Regions from separate parts of the Homo sapiens genome. Here region 1 is linked to region 2. Evidence: fine-mapped expression QTL. A gene starts in region 2. The other region holds a variant in brackets. All regions are shown on one strand. Distances are from middle to middle. Region 1 overlaps LIMD1 (LIM domain containing 1). Region 2 holds the start of LIMD1-AS1 (LIMD1 antisense RNA 1).

Evidence for each region. PIP is the estimated chance that this variant, and not a neighbour inherited with it, causes the effect.
Region 1: its variant is fine-mapped to the expression of LIMD1-AS1 in testis (GTEx, PIP 0.95).

Annotation. Positions count from the first base shown.
Region 1 is chr3:45,655,252-45,660,630 of GRCh38, forward strand. The region is part of intron 2 of LIMD1 (LIM domain containing 1); the gene reads left to right. Among named protein-coding and RNA genes, the nearest start is that of LIMD1-AS1, 31 kb to the right of the region's middle. The variant A/G (reference allele first, on the strand shown) is at 3,382.
Region 2 is chr3:45,686,146-45,691,524 of GRCh38, forward strand. LIMD1-AS1 (LIMD1 antisense RNA 1) reads right to left here and starts at 2,737. Exons shown (of 3, transcript NR_033947.1): 1 at 2,231-2,737. It overlaps LIMD1 (LIM domain containing 1), which reads left to right. Exons shown (of 8, transcript NM_014240.3): 8 at 1-196. It overlaps SACM1L (SAC1 like phosphatidylinositide phosphatase), which reads left to right and starts at 3,251. Exons shown (of 20, transcript NM_014016.5): 1 at 3,251-3,352. The coding sequence starts at 3,321. It overlaps TRR-ACG2-1 (tRNA-Arg (anticodon ACG) 2-1), which reads right to left and starts at 2,926; the gene lies at 2,854-2,926. RefSeq lists enhancers at 2,053-2,122, 2,633-2,682, 2,943-3,232 and a silencer at 3,263-3,442.

The DNA of each region.
Region 1 (5,379 bases), 31 kb before region 2:
AATAAAGAAAATAAAGAGCATTTTGACTACTGTCTTCTAAACTGTAAAAATGGTCTATTGAGTATATATTTAGTGTGACGATCATCAGCTATTTCCTAGTGGAGGGAATTCCTTTACTGGAAGCAGGACGATTCTGAAACTAGAATTATAAAGATGTAACACTGACACTCCCACCCCCAGTTTATGTTTGATGCTGATTATTCAGGGATGGTTTAGGTCTTAGCATTTTTGACCAAGATGAACAGCATCAAATGGAAGTGCCAGTTCAGAGACAAGCCTGAGGCATAGTCTGACTTGGTGGTTCTCAAAGTGTGGTCCCTGGACTAGCACCATCAGCATCACTAGGGAACTTAACTAGAAATGCAGAGTCTCGGGCCCCTTCCCACACTTACTAAGTCAGCAGTCTGTGTTTCAACAAACTCACCTGGTGGTTCTGAAGCATGCTAAGGTTTGAGAACCACCTAAGTTTTTGGTGTTTATCCCTCGGCTATTCCATTTTGTCCTCTGTCCTTATTAGCTCTGCCAAAGCCGCAGCAGCTCCCTAGTGTTACGTCTCTACGTATGAGCCGCCATAACAAGTCAGTGAGGACAGTGAAATTTGCCTCTTCAAGGGAGCAGAAGGAAGTTTAATTGGGAATGCCAGGAAATCCATCTACTTCCCTGGAAGGACTGAACGTTTATACCGCCCCCTCACAAATCCTTATGTTGAATCTCTAATCCCAACATGATGGTATTTGGAGGTGGAGTCTTTGGGAGGTGATTAAGTTATGAGAGTGGATACTTCCTGAATGGGATTAGTGTCCTTATAAGAAGAGCTCAGAGATGTAGTTAGTTCCCTTTCCACCATGTGAGAAAACAGCAGGAAGACAGCCATCTGTAAATCAGGAACTGGATCCTCACCAAGAACCTGACCCTACTAGCACCCTGATGTTGGACTTCCAACCTCCAGAGCTGTGAGAAATAAATGTCTATTGTTTAAGCTACTCACTTTATGGTATTTTGTTCTAACAGCCTAAAATGACTAAGACATTCCCCTTAGTCTGAGAGATATTCCTTTTGGAACAGAAAACAAGAGAGACAGTATAGTGTGGTGGAAAGAGTGTTGACTTTGCACAAGAGAGACCTGGGTTCGAATCTCAACTTTTCTATTTAACTTTTAGCTACATAGGTGAATTTAACCTCTTTAGCTTTTGTTTCTCCATCAGAAAAAAAAAAAAAAGCATCAGTAACTCAACCGTAATATAGTAAGTGAGTTTCCTTTTTCTTTTTCTTTCTTTTTTTTTTTGAGACGGAGTCTCACTCTGTCGCCAGGCTGGAGTGCAGTGGTGCAATCTCGGCTCACTGCAACCTCGGCCTCCCGGGTTCAAGCGATTCTCCTGCCTCAGCTTCCTGAGTAGCTGGGATTACAGGCACGCACCACCACACCCAGCTGGTTTTTGTATTTTTAGTAGGGACGGGGTTTCACCATGTTGGCCAGGATGGTCTTGGTCTCCTGACCTCATGATCCGCCCACCTTGGCCTCCCAAAGTGCTGAGATTACAGGCGTGAGCCACCACGCCCAGCCGACAAGTGAGTTTCAACTGCCCAAACGTCAGGGCACATTATTGCAAGATTAATGAAATGACTCAAGCAGGCCTCCAGGGCTGGCTGGCTTGGGGTAAATTGTGCTGCTTCAACCTGTCCTTGTCCTGGCTGTGGTTTGGCACCACCTAGTGGCGGTTGGGTGCTCTAGCTTAAATGTCAATAAGGAGGATTCTGGATCCTGCTCTTGATTGGAACTTTCAGGACAGTGGCAGTGATTCCAGGAATTTTCAGGTTAGTTGGCGTCTGTTTCATTGGCCAAATCTGGGGTGATTCAGCCTGGAGAATACCTTTTCTGCCTCCCTGCTTCTCAGCACCAGGTTGCTTGCTGTTTCCTACCTGGCCTCAGCCTCCTCTCAGCAACCCCCTTTCTCCAAAGATACAAACTTTAGCCTGTCTCCAAGTGGAAGGTTACCTATCAAGTTACATCTAAATGCCTGTCATCACAAGGAGTTTTTACGGAGCTGTTCATGACACTTAAGTGAGACATGAGGCAAGTAAAAGGCCCAGTACCTAGAAAGTGTTTGAATGAAAATTCCCTTTTCCGGCCAGATATGGTAACTCACACCTGTAATCTCAACGCTTTGGGAGGCCAAGGCGGGAGGATTGCTGAGACCAGGAGTTCGAGGCTGCAGTGAGCTATGATTGTACCACTGCACTCCAGCCTGGGCAACAGAGCAAGACGCTGTCTCAAAAAAAAAAAAAAAAAAAAGGAAAAAGAAAGAAAGGCCTGTCCCATTTCCTGGCAGAAGAGAGAAACTGGATTCTGCATATAGGTGTGCATCCAACAAGCATTAAATACTGCTGCATGGCCTCATGGTGCAGTGGAACAAGCACAGTCTTCACAGTCAGACAAATCTGGGTTCCCATCCTGCCCACTTACTACCTGGGTAAGCCTCAATTTCCTTACTTATGAAATGAAAACGATAATGTGTAATTCATAAGTATCATATTTTTACTCCAGAAAGTTAGGAGTAATCCTTGGGTGTGATTTCAAGTGATTCCCAAAAATAATCAATTCCTGTATCCTTGTACTGCTCCATGACATTGACATGTGATGTGTTTTATTTCTGCCCGACTCTTTACTGAACCCTTTCTACGCTCACTGAAACCTGGAGTAGGTGATGGCTTTGAGTAGGAAATGACTTTGTGAGTTTCTTCCGTAAAAGGCATGTGACAGTACAGGGTCAGAAGGTGGAGTGATGCAGTAACCTGTGTGGCAAAGTTTTCAAGCATTTAAAAATATATGTGAAAGCCCTAAACATAGTACTTAGACCACAGAAGACAATCAGTAGATGTTAGGCTTTTCTCCCACTCAGAATACAAACAAATATATTTTGATACACTATCCAGTTTCTAACCTCAGGTGGTCTTTCAAAACCGAAGTGAAAAATGAAGTGTGAGTTCTTCAGAGCAAACTAAGCCCCACCCTCTTAGGTCAGTGGGGGAGTCTCAGTTTTTTAAAATTTGGAATAAAGGAAAATCAGACGTAGTCCCCCAACCCCCTGTACTGGCCTCCTGTGTCCGGACATGGGAATTCTCAGCTGTGGGAACTGGCAGCAAGAGGACTTATCTAGCCAGCTGGGCAATTTTTTAAATGATCAGAGCAATACCTGCTCATTGGTAAATCTTTGGGAAAGTGTAGGAAAGTATATAGAAGCAACCAACTAGGAAATAAACCATCCCCTCCACCATGCAGATTCTTTTTTTTTTTTTTTTTTTTTTTTTTTTTTTTGAGACTGAGTTTTGCTCATGTTGCTCATTGCAGGCTGGAGTGCAATGGTGTGATCTCAGCTCACC[A/G]CAATCTCCACTCCTTGGGTTCAAGTGATTCTCCTGCCTCAGCCTCCTGAGTAGCTGGGACTACAGGCATGCACCACCATGCCTGGCTAATTTTGTATTTTTAGTAGAGAGGGGGCTTTTCCATGTTGGTCAGACTGGTCTTGAACTCCCGACTTCAGGCGATCTGCCCGCCTTGGCCTCTCAAAGTGCTAGGATTACAGGCATGAGCCACCGTGCCTGGCCTCACCATGCAGATTCTAAATATGTCCACTCAGAGGCGTTGCCACTCATGGGCAGATTTCCTTTCCAGTCTTTTTTTCTTTGAATTTCTTTATATAGTTGAGATGCACAATTTTTAAATCTTGCTTTTTACTTTTCACATTATAACATAAGGGTTTTCTTTTAAGATTAAAAGTATTTTTTCATATTATACATATTTCTAGAAAAATTTAATATAGAAATATGTGAAGTAAAGTGAAATTTCTCTCTAATACCATCTGTCACTGTACCTAATACTAGAAAGAAAATTTAAAATATTAAAGTATATAAAGTAGAAAGTGATGTTTCACTGTTATACTTCTACCAGTGTTACCCACTGTTTGTTTTTTTCCCTTTTGCATATCAGTGGTATCTGCAAATTACTGAAATGGAATTGTACTATAAATACACTTGTCAAGTTTGCTTTTTTCACTTGTTAATATATTTTCAGTCTGGGTGCAGTAGTTCACACCTGTAATCCTGAGATGGGCTGATCACTTGAGCCCAGGAGTTGTTGACTAGCCTTAGACAACATGGCGAAACACTGTCTCTACAAAAAAATACAAAAATTAGGCAGTTGTGGTGGTGCACACCTGTAGCCCTATCTACTCAGGAGGCCGAGGTGGGAGGATTCCTTGAGCCTGGGAGGCTGAGGCTGCAGATTGCACCACTGCACTCCAGCCTGGGTGACAGAGTCAGGCTCCATCTCAAAAAAACCCCAAACATATATATATGCTATCCCCAAACATATATATATGCTATATATAAGCATTTTCCAATATGACTAAAACACTATTTAAATGACATTTTAAATAGCTATGTAACATTTCATCATTTATATGTACTCTGGTTTATATAACCATTCCTCTAAGGCTGCCAGTTTGGATCTAAGTAAATATTTATTCACTTTTTAAAATTCTTTCCCAAAGCTAAGTCTCAGATAACCTCACTGAGTCAGAGATAAACATTTTAAAGTTTCCCTTCCAGGGAGAGTTTATCATCTTACACTCTCAGCAGTAGCTTATGAAAATATACAGTGACAACAATCACAAACACTTAAAAAATCTTTGTTGATCTCCTGGATGAAAAAGCTTTCGTTTAATTTGTTTCTTAACACTAGAGGGTTCAGTGCTTCTGCATGTTCAATGATCTTCCTCTGTGATTTTTGGAATAGAGGTGATCTTCGCCCTATTACACAAAACGTTGATTTCCAGCTCAGATTCCTTAGAACTTGCTAACCCCATTCCTGGAACCAAAGTGCTGTTTGCTGTGTTCTCCATACATTGGATCAGAAGCCTAAGCTCTGGAAGTCCTGCGCCGTTTCCTGGTGGCCTCCTAGCTCCCTCTAGGGGCCCCATCCGCAACTGCAGCCCCACCTTCTTTCCTCTCTTGAGGAATGAGTTTACCCTGCGGGAATTCCGAGAAGGAAGAGGCGAAAGTGGGGAGCTCCACAAGTAAAGATTTGGACTTTGTGATCAGACAGTGTGTGAATAGTTTTGCTTACTGGTTGAGCAAGCTTCTCTTAGGTGGGCTGTCTTTTTTTTTTTTTTTTTTTTTTTTTCCCGAGACGGAGTCTCTCTCTGTCATAAAGGCTAGAGTGCAATGGCGCGATCTTAGCTTCCTGCAGCCTCCGCCTCCCAGGTTCAAGCGATTCTCCTACCGCGGCCTCCCAAGTAGCTAGGATTATAGGCGCGTGCCACCATGCCAAGCTAATTTTTGTATTTTTAGTGGAGATGAGGTTTCGCCATGTTGGCCAGGCTG
Region 2 (5,379 bases):
ACTTTCCTGTAACCATTTATCCTTTTAACTTTTTGCCTACTTTATTTCTGTAAAATTGTTTTAACTAGACCCCCCCCTCCCCTTTCTAAACCAAAGTATAAAAGAAAATCTAGCCCTTTCCTCAGGGCTGAGAAAATTTTGAGTGTTAGCCGTCTCTCGGTCGCTGGCTAATAAAGGACTCTTAATTCGTCTTAAAGTGTGGCGTTTTTCTAACTCGCTCAGGTACAACAATTGTTGTAAGGAATGATTGAATTCATCCAAGTAAGGGAATTAGAGCAGTTTCTGGCATGAAGTAATTGCTCAATAAAGTGTGTCAGGTTTTAAGATTAATTGATCTTTACATCATGATAAATGGCAACAAAATAAATGACAAATGGATTAAAGTAAATGGTAAAAACAACATAAGAACAAAACATTAAAAAATCATATAATAGAAGAAACCAAATATTAGTAAGTGTGAATATATAAAGTGAAAATTACTACAAGTTCAAATATATATATATATATATATATATATATTTTTTTTTTTTTTTTTTTTTTGAGACAGAGTTTCACTGTGTCACCCAGGCTGGAGTGCAGTGACGTGATCTCAGCCAACTGCAGCCTCCACCTCCCAGGTTCAAGCAATTCTCCTGCCTCAGCCTCCTGAGTGGCTGGGACTACAGGCACACACCACCATGCCTTGCTAATTTTTGTATTTTTAAATAGAGAGAGGGTTTCACCATGTTGGCCAGGCGGGTCTCGAACTCCTGACCTCAAGAGATCCACCTGCCTTGGCCTCCCAAAGCACTGGGATTACAGGCATGAGCCACCGTGCCCAGCCGTTAAAAAAATTTTGAAAAGGTAAATCATAAGCTGGAAAAAAGATTGCAACGTATTTAAGAGTTAATACCCTTAATATATTAAAAAATCAAATTTGTAAGAAAAAATTCAATACATCAAGAGAAAATATATAAAGTACATGTAAAAGGAAGTTCCATATTCCAATTATGAAAATTGCAAATCACGGTTAAATTTATAATAGCCAGTGTTGGTTAGCATGCACGAAAACAGAGAAACAGGTGCTGTTGATGGAAGTGTGTTTTGGTTTAATTTTTTGGAGGGCAGTCAGAAAGTAACAAAAGTCTTAAAAATGTCCATAAAATGGACCTTACAGATGTCCACCTGGTCGTTCCACCTCTAGAAATTTGTAAGACAAATAATTCGGCCGGGCACAGTGGCTCACATCTAACCCCAGCACTTTGGGAGGCTGAGGTGGGCGGATCACGAGATCAGTAGATCAAGACCATCCTTGCTAACACGGTGAAACCCCGTCTCTACTAAAAAATACAAAAAATTAGTCGGGCGTGGTGGCACACACCTGTAGTCCCAGTTACTTGGGAGGCTGAAGCAGGAGAATTGCTTGAACCCGGGAGGCAGAGACTGCAGTAAGCCGAGATCACGCCACTGCACTCCAGCCTGGGTGACAGAGCGAGACTCCGTCTCAAAATAATAATAATTCAACACAGGGTCTCATTCTGTTGCTCAGGCTGGAGTGCAGTGGCATGGTAACAGCTCACTGCAGCCTCAACCTCCTGGGCTGAGGTGATCCTCCCACCTCAGCCTCCTGAGTAGCTAGGACTATAGGTGCACACCACCACACCTGGCTAATTAAAATTTATTTATTTATTTAGTAAATAGAGATGAGGTCTTGCTATGTTGCCCAGGCTGGTCTCGAACTCCTAAGCAGCATCATTTTTTCTAGGTGTTAAACTGACAACCACCCAAATTCCCAGCATAAGGATTCTGCTTAAAATATCTAGCTCTCTGATGAAATATCTTCAAAGAATATTTAATGACCTTAAATCTCAGACAAAAAGGTAAGGAGACAAAATGAGGAACCCATTTCCGTACAACCCCAATTTGGAAAAACACATGTGCAAGTATGCCCATGTTAAAAAATATAGAAGAAAAAAAGGCTTTAAGGAAAAAAAAAATAATAGTAATGATTTAGGGTGGGAATCGCGTTAATATTCCCAATAATTTTATATATTTTAAAAATCTATAATTTTATCAGGGGAAAACGTTATGTTGCGGAAATTAATTGATCGATTGAGTGATTGGTTAACGGACAGTGTCCGATGACTCATATAATCCCCCGGTTCGAGTCCCTTTAGGCCGCAGACGTTTCGCGCCTTCTCGGGTGTCCAAGTCGCGCATCCATACAATGAGGGGTAATATACTAGATTACCTGAGGTCTTCTTACGGTAAAAACACCGGTGTCTTAAGGTTTCCCAGTGGAATTTGGGGGCCGGGTTGACTTCGGAGCTGGAGCTCGCAAAGGCCGGGGCTGCTGCAGATTCTGACGCTTTGTGGACCCCTACTACCGAGCGCAGCCGCACCGCAGGTTTTCTTCGCTGCTGGTTAGATCCAAAGCCCATCCCATCCTAGTAAACTGGGACAGCGCCGCTTCTCACATCACTATGGGGGCTTCTGCTCCGTGGCGGGGAAAGGCCAGAACTGCTGCCTTAAATACGCTTTTGCATCATCCGGTTGCTAACCTCCGGCCACAGCATTCCCCACTCCAAAATGCCACTTTTCCAGGTGTGTTTGCCTAAATTTACCCCATTTACAGACTTCTCAGGTGCATCATTGGGAACAGGGCGCTTTGCAGTTTGCAAACCACCTCAGACAACTCCAGGTTTAAAGGATAAAGGATGACATTGTGAGCAAAGCGGCATCAAAATTTCAGATATTTAACTTTCACATTCTAACCATACACCTTTCCAAGGTCTTGTAATACTTTCACATTGTGAATATACATCTTTACAAGACCCAGTAGTACATGGGTCAAGTGTGGCAAAACAGACATCGCGAGCCAGCCAGGAGTCGAACCTAGAATCTTCTGATCCGTAGTCAGACGCGTTATCCATTGCGCCACTGGCCCCGACTTGCTAAAGCCTTCTCCGTGATAGCTGATCACCCTTATACAGTTTGAACGGGCTTCCGGGTACCAACGATCCATTTTGCCCTTGCGCCGCGCTCCCGCTGCTCTGCCTTTCCCCAAAACGCGCCCCACCAATCCGCAGCGGCTTCGTCACGGCGCTCTTCGTCGCACTCCAACCCGCCGCGTCGGCGGCATCTCTCGCGTGCTCTTGCTTGCGCACTAATTTGTCCTCCACCGCCTCCCGTTCAGGCCGGCTCTCCTGCGGGGCGGGGAAAGGGGTGGGAAGAGGCTGGGAGCTGCGGCCGCTGTGCCAGGGTGACCGGTAGAGTTGTAGCCGAGGTGGCGGCGCGGGGCGGGGCGGGCGGAGAGAGAAGGAAGGAGGTGGTTGTGCAGGATGGCGACGGCGGCCTACGAGCAGCTGAAGCTGTGAGTCCCACGGGCCAGAGGCCTGAGGCGCGGCGGGCGGGGCGGCAGGTGCGGGCCCTGGCCTCGGGGAGGGCTTCTGAGTCCCGGATTGCAGATAGGGTGTGGGAGCTCCTCGCATTTACCGGTTTTCCTCAGCCGGCGCGGCCTCTCCTAGGCCTCGCCCGAGTAGCCATAGGCCGGGAACCAGCGGCTCGCCGGCCTTTCTCCACCGTGCTCGGCCCCAGCGCCCACGGCTGAAGAGAGAAGCTGCCGACTGGCCCCCACCGAGCCGGGGTCGGCGTTATGATGCGGCCCTTCAGGGCACGCTTGTCCCCACTTTCTATGCAGAGCTACCGACTAAATTTATCTGTATGACTTAACAGAGAAAAAGAGTTTTCTCTTACTTAACGGACCTACAGCAGCAATTTAGAGTCTACGCACAAATCAACAAATCTTTGTTTTGCTTACAGCCTATCTGGGTACCGAAGCCTGCCTGCCCCCTCTTCAGTGTGCAGAAAAAATTTAAAGTACAGTCAGTAGTCTTAAGGTCCTGAAGGAGTTTACTTTGGTTTAAATTTTAAACAGCTCCAGCCTAAAGCAGGTTCTTAAGTCAGTGTCGACAGCCAGAGGCTAATCTCGGTAATTTTGGTACTGCAAATTGACTTTTCGGTAAATCCAAGTTCTTGAGTCTTTGATACAGAGGCTGTGGTTGTTAAGAGTTATAAAATAGGTGTTTTTAAGGGTTTTGGTTTGTCTTGGATTAAAAACAACATGTGTTTATTTCCCTTAGTGTTACCCATTAGCATCCACACTTTTCTTGTCTGTGAATAATTTTGTTGTACTCACTTCGTGTTTAATGCTTTACCCCTAGGCTGTTTGAAAATCTGGTGGCCACAGCCTGGGAATATCTGGTAGGAGAAACAAATGTAATTTTTTAGAAGCTTATCTATCCCTGTATATGAGCTAAAATACCTTGGCAGTTAGGCATAGATACCGCATTTCTTTTGCAGGGAAATGACACCAAAATGTGGTTTGGGCACTTAAGCTCCTCAGACCTCAACCTCACTAGTAACTTTCTGAAAGGTTCAGTGGAAAGTTAGAGGTGCAAAATTCAGAGAGGTCATCTATTCCACATTGTATGTGTTGCAAAAAAGATGATTGCTTTTTCTACAGTGCACCCCCTGTGGGTGCCATTTCTGTTTACTGTAATGTTCTTTGAAAACCCTAGCTGCACACTTCCCTCCACATTTTCCTCTCCACCTTTCCCTATTTTCTCCCAGTTCCCCTTTGCAAAGTGCTCACCTCGTCTTTGGTGAAAGAGTTGAAGGAAGTGTCTTCCACTGCGTTTCTGGCCAGGCCACTGTCACATGTGCTCTGCTAGCTAATTAGGTTATTGTGTATCTGATAGGCACTGAAGGGTTTAATGTGATCCTACACCAGGTCTCAAATGTGTTTAAGCCATATGGAGCCATGGCTTCATGCAGCTTAGCGTGGCAAAGATTGAATAGGATGGAGAACTTGAGAATTATGATGATTGTTTTTCAGCTGCCAGAACACTAAATTTAACCAGTTCAGACCTTAAAACAAACCCAAATCCTCGCATACATAAAAGAGAAAGGAAATTTGTCCCTGAAGTAGTAAGAATGATGTTTTTGTATTGATTTTTGTGAGAAGTGGAAACTCTTAAATTATTTGGGTGATAAAGTCAAACTGGGGTTATGTGAAAGTCATTCTCTCATTTGTCAGTCCTAGCTTTTTTTCCCCCTGAAAAAAAAGTTTAGAGTGTTTCTGTAAATGTGAAGGTACAACTTTTTTGCACCTTTTTCTTTACCAAGGGGTTTATGAGTTAGAGTTTCCATTTTTATTCCTTCCTTTTGGCCCTTCCTGCTCTGAGGCTGCTGTTGAAGGTTTTCAAATGTGGCTCCTGCCCTAAGGAGTATTCTTTTTTGGATGCATTTAGAAGTGAAATTGGTTTCTGTGTAAGAATTGGTAGGAGATAGTAGCCATTTTTTAAAATGTGTCTGGAGATGTGTTTTAAGAAATATCCA